Linked DNA regions of Homo sapiens: region 2 is linked to region 1. The links come from fine-mapping of genetic effects on gene expression. A gene starts in region 1. The other region holds a variant in brackets. All regions are shown on one strand. Distances are from middle to middle.

The links. PIP is the estimated chance that this variant, and not a neighbour inherited with it, causes the effect.
Region 2: its variant is the best candidate, but not a certain one, in a credible set for the expression of BCL9L in whole blood (TOPMed, PIP 0.76).

What each region holds. Positions count from the first base shown.
Region 1 is chr11:118,924,463-118,927,357 of GRCh38, forward strand. It overlaps BCL9L (BCL9 like), which reads right to left and starts at 1,464. Exons shown (of 10, transcript NM_001378213.1): 1 at 776-1,464. RefSeq lists enhancers at 181-250, 622-1,123 and silencers at 1,319-1,368, 1,569-1,708, 2,529-2,588.
Region 2 is chr11:118,892,891-118,895,785 of GRCh38, forward strand. It overlaps CXCR5 (C-X-C motif chemokine receptor 5), which reads left to right. Exons shown (of 2, transcript NM_001716.5): 2 at 706-2,895. The coding sequence ends at 1,773. Among named protein-coding and RNA genes, the nearest start is that of CXCR5, 10 kb to the left of the region's middle. RefSeq lists an enhancer at 2,874-2,895. The variant G/C (reference allele first, on the strand shown) is at 1,668.

The sequences.
Region 1 (2,895 bases):
CACCCTCCAGACTCCTAGACTTCAAGGGACACTATCCTTCTCAGAAGGAGAGAGCAGCCCTCTGTCTCTTCTGAAACCAAATTCCAGCAGCCCTGGAATAGGACCTACCCCAGCGCAACAAGAAGCCTAAGCTCACTTCTCTTCCTACATTCTTCCCCGAGGGTTCCTTTGGATCAAGACAGGGGCCACCTCCCCTTAGCAGCGCAGGGACACTTCCAAGGAACTGTATGACTGCCCCACCCCCCAGCCAAGCCCACATCACTCAGAAGCCTTGGAAGAAGAGACTCCTCAGTCACAGCCCCCGCTACTCACAGGCAGTGCCTGGGAGAAAAGGGTGACCCCCAGCTCTCCCCAGTCCCAACCCACCTCCTTCTGGAGGCTCCTATCAGCCAGAGGAGGAGGGCTGGGGTGCTGAGACCCACGGGGTTGGTGAGCCTGGGAGGGGGACTACATCTCCCAGAAGCCCCCAGGGCAAGGTTCGCTGCTCCAGCTGGCCCAAGGCCGGCCTTGTTCTCTGCGCTAGGGTGGCAGGGTCCCCTGGCTGTCCCTAAGCCCTCCCCACGGTGTTCTGGAGCTGCCAACCTGATTGGGGGCTTAAGAGTAGCCTCCACTGACCCTGGGGGAGTCCCCCACACCTTAAACAGCCTGGGGGTACGTGCCAGAGAGCAAGAGACAATCAGACTGTGTTTCCCCTCCCCGATTCAAACTGGATCTCCCTCCTCGCGCCTCTGCTGGCCTGGCATGACTTTCGCCTTGCCCCCAGCCCACCCCTCACCTCACGCGGATTGGGGGGTCCTCACGCCAGGCCGGAGCTGGACGCCATGACCAGGTCAGGGTCGTTGTGTGGATGGGGGTCCTCCTGCTCGCCAGTTGGAGATGCAGAGGGGGCGGGCAGGCGGTGATCTTTTGATCCTGGACGCCTTGATCTCAATACCAGCCCGGCCCGGGAGAGGCTATCCGGGGATCGCTGGGTGCCTGGGTTCCTGCCTCCCAACCGCGGAGCATGGTCGCGGGCGCCGGGCAGTGGCGGGAGAGCGCGCACACCCGCCGGGGCCGGGGCGCGGGGCCGGGGTCTCGGCCCCGAACCTCAGGGCTCCGGCTCCTGCTCCTGCTCCTCCTTCCCTTGCTTGCTTGCTTGCTTCCTTCCTTCCTTCCTCGCCTCTCCTTTCCTTTCCCCAAAGCCCGCGGGAATGCCGGGCGCTGGGTGGGGAGGGGCTGTCTGGGCGCTTATTGTTGGTCGGACTCCGAGGGTCCGGGTCACAGCCCCCGGGCGGCGCGGCGCCGGGGGACCCAGGCGTGCGGGCGTCCGGCCGGCTGGCTCCGGGCGGCGGCGGTGGTGCAGCGGCCCCGGGTCCGGGGCATGTCCAGCCACTGGCTCCGCCGCGCGCCGCCGCCTCCCCGGGCTCCCCTGCGCTGCCGGAGCCTCGCTTGCCCCTCCACTCGGCTCCACTCCCCAGCCTGAATAAGCATCGGGGCTCTCTGGCTGCCTCCTTCTGCCTTCATACCAGAGCCCGGAGAGGCCCCTGTCAAAATAAGAGCTCCCCCATCTCGCTTGCCTCCTCGCCCAACCCGGCTCCCCCAGCCTCCCAGTGGTCTGACTCGGTAAGGCGCCCGGCCGGCTAGCGGGAGGCAGGTTGGCCCGGGGGCGGGGAGGGGGGTTTCTGCTCTCCTCCTCACTCCTGAGAACTGGGGAGGAGACGCGCCAACAACATCCCAGGCTAGGGAAAGGTTTGACAAACCTACCTTCCTATCTGCACTGATTGGAAGGAGTGGAAGTTGCCTGGACACACGCGCGCGCACACACACACACACACACAGCACTGGGTCCCCTCTTCGTTGTACCCACCCACATCCATAATGCACTGAGCATCTCTTTATTCATGTCTCTCCTAGTAGACCATGAGGTCCTTGAGGACACAGACTGAGTTTTTTCATCTCAATCCTCAGCAGCACAAAGTGCATGCTAAGAAAATGTTTGTGGAAGTGAAACCTTTGTCTTCTCAAAAGAACTCTCCTAACCTAACCTCAAAGTGCTTCTCTCTCTCTCTCTCTCTCTCACACACACACACACACACACACACACTCTCACCACCCTATAGGACGATCGAGGCAATGAAAAAGAAAATGTAAAGCCCTTTTTTTTTTTTGAGATGGAGTTTCGCTCTTGTTGCCCAGGCTGGAGTGCAAAGGCGCGGTCTCAGCTCACTGTAACCTCTGCCTTCTGGGTTAAAGCGATTCTCCTGCCTGAACCTCCCAAGTAGCTGGGATTGCAGGCACCTGCCACCATGCCCGGCTAATTTTGTATTTTTAGTAGAGACAGCGTTTCACCATGTCGGCCAGGCTGGTCTCGAACTACTGACCTCAGGTGATCAACCTGCCTTGGCCTCCCAAAGTGCTGGGATTACAGGCGTGAGCCACCGCGCCCGGCCCAAAGCGCTTTTTAAAAACATTTCACATGTTTCAATGCTCACCACAAACCTGCAAGAAAGAGGTTATGGTCCCATTACAGAGGTGAGGAAATTGAGGTTTGCATTACCTAAGGACTTACCCAGAGCTACCCAGCTAGAAAGTGGTAAGCCCAGGACTAGAATTTGGGTCTCCTTATCCCAGGGCACTTTCCCTGTTTCCTACTGTCCCCACCCACCCAGAATTAATAGCAAGTGACAAGCATTGACTGTGTCTGATAGGAAGAACACTAGCCAGCCTGCTTGTTCCTGCTGTTTCCTCGGCCCTCTCCCCTGCCCCTCCTCACAGATGGTCCCCAGATAGTTCTAGCCTCACTGACCTCCCTCTCTTCTGACCACCTATCCCATCATAGCATCTGAGTACTTCCTGATGTGTTGTATCTTGTCACACACACACACACACATATATATATACACACACACACCCCTA
Region 2 (2,895 bases), 32 kb before region 1:
TGCATCTGCTGCCCCTAGAAGGAAGCCCAGGCAGGGTTGTTCAGTGGGAGGTACTGGCTTTGGAAGTAGATAAACGTCGGTTCACACAAACCTGATCTTTAGCAAGACACATCTGTGAAATAGGAATAATATTACATACCTTGAGCGGGTTGTGCATATTGAACCAGATGGGAGGCTATTACTGCCATTTCAGTGATAACAGAGACAGTCAGGAACAGGAAGACCCATGAGGAGGGAGCCCACAGGCCAAGTCAGCACCCGCCCGCCCCTAGTCCCCAGCACAATGCTAAGTTGCAGTGCCCGACTGTTCTGCTCAGAACTGGAACAGATGGGTCCTTGTACCAAGCAGGTCCATTCCCCAAATTGAAGTCCTGTGACTCCAGCCGCCAAGGCTGCAGGCTTCCGTACATGAGGACCCAAAAACACAAGCTGACTTATGGGGTCCAGCCCTCCAGCACTTACAAAGCTCAGCCACCCGCACGCCTCCCTTCATCAGCACCACCACTCTAAGGAATGCGGTCCCTTTGACAGGCGAAAAACTGAAGTTGGAAAAGACAAAGTGATTTGTTCAAAATTGAAATTTGAAACTTGACATTTGGTCAGTGGGCCCTATGTAGGAAAAAACCTCCAAGAGAGCTAGGGTTCCTCTCAGAGAGGAAAGACAGGTCCTTAGGTCCTCACCCTCCCGTCTCCTTGCCCTTGCAGTTCTGGGAACTGGACAGATTGGACAACTATAACGACACCTCCCTGGTGGAAAATCATCTCTGCCCTGCCACAGAGGGGCCCCTCATGGCCTCCTTCAAGGCCGTGTTCGTGCCCGTGGCCTACAGCCTCATCTTCCTCCTGGGCGTGATCGGCAACGTCCTGGTGCTGGTGATCCTGGAGCGGCACCGGCAGACACGCAGTTCCACGGAGACCTTCCTGTTCCACCTGGCCGTGGCCGACCTCCTGCTGGTCTTCATCTTGCCCTTTGCCGTGGCCGAGGGCTCTGTGGGCTGGGTCCTGGGGACCTTCCTCTGCAAAACTGTGATTGCCCTGCACAAAGTCAACTTCTACTGCAGCAGCCTGCTCCTGGCCTGCATCGCCGTGGACCGCTACCTGGCCATTGTCCACGCCGTCCATGCCTACCGCCACCGCCGCCTCCTCTCCATCCACATCACCTGTGGGACCATCTGGCTGGTGGGCTTCCTCCTTGCCTTGCCAGAGATTCTCTTCGCCAAAGTCAGCCAAGGCCATCACAACAACTCCCTGCCACGTTGCACCTTCTCCCAAGAGAACCAAGCAGAAACGCATGCCTGGTTCACCTCCCGATTCCTCTACCATGTGGCGGGATTCCTGCTGCCCATGCTGGTGATGGGCTGGTGCTACGTGGGGGTAGTGCACAGGTTGCGCCAGGCCCAGCGGCGCCCTCAGCGGCAGAAGGCAGTCAGGGTGGCCATCCTGGTGACAAGCATCTTCTTCCTCTGCTGGTCACCCTACCACATCGTCATCTTCCTGGACACCCTGGCGAGGCTGAAGGCCGTGGACAATACCTGCAAGCTGAATGGCTCTCTCCCCGTGGCCATCACCATGTGTGAGTTCCTGGGCCTGGCCCACTGCTGCCTCAACCCCATGCTCTACACTTTCGCCGGCGTGAAGTTCCGCAGTGACCTGTCGCGGCTCCTGAC[G/C]AAGCTGGGCTGTACCGGCCCTGCCTCCCTGTGCCAGCTCTTCCCTAGCTGGCGCAGGAGCAGTCTCTCTGAGTCAGAGAATGCCACCTCTCTCACCACGTTCTAGGTCCCAGTGTCCCCTTTTATTGCTGCTTTTCCTTGGGGCAGGCAGTGATGCTGGATGCTCCTTCCAACAGGAGCTGGGATCCTAAGGGCTCACCGTGGCTAAGAGTGTCCTAGGAGTATCCTCATTTGGGGTAGCTAGAGGAACCAACCCCCATTTCTAGAACATCCCTGCCAGCTCTTCTGCCGGCCCTGGGGCTAGGCTGGAGCCCAGGGAGCGGAAAGCAGCTCAAAGGCACAGTGAAGGCTGTCCTTACCCATCTGCACCCCCCTGGGCTGAGAGAACCTCACGCACCTCCCATCCTAATCATCCAATGCTCAAGAAACAACTTCTACTTCTGCCCTTGCCAACGGAGAGCGCCTGCCCCTCCCAGAACACACTCCATCAGCTTAGGGGCTGCTGACCTCCACAGCTTCCCCTCTCTCCTCCTGCCCACCTGTCAAACAAAGCCAGAAGCTGAGCACCAGGGGATGAGTGGAGGTTAAGGCTGAGGAAAGGCCAGCTGGCAGCAGAGTGTGGCCTTCGGACAACTCAGTCCCTAAAAACACAGACATTCTGCCAGGCCCCCAAGCCTGCAGTCATCTTGACCAAGCAGGAAGCTCAGACTGGTTGAGTTCAGGTAGCTGCCCCTGGCTCTGACCGAAACAGCGCTGGGTCCACCCCATGTCACCGGATCCTGGGTGGTCTGCAGGCAGGGCTGACTCTAGGTGCCCTTGGAGGCCAGCCAGTGACCTGAGGAAGCGTGAAGGCCGAGAAGCAAGAAAGAAACCCGACAGAGGGAAGAAAAGAGCTTTCTTCCCGAACCCCAAGGAGGGAGATGGATCAATCAAACCCGGCGGTCCCCTCCGCCAGGCGAGATGGGGTGGGGTGGAGAACTCCTAGGGTGGCTGGGTCCAGGGGATGGGAGGTTGTGGGCATTGATGGGGAAGGAGGCTGGCTTGTCCCCTCCTCACTCCCTTCCCATAAGCTATAGACCCGAGGAAACTCAGAGTCGGAACGGAGAAAGGTGGACTGGAAGGGGCCCGTGGGAGTCATCTCAACCATCCCCTCCGTGGCATCACCTTAGGCAGGGAAGTGTAAGAAACACACTGAGGCAGGGAAGTCCCCAGGCCCCAGGAAGCCGTG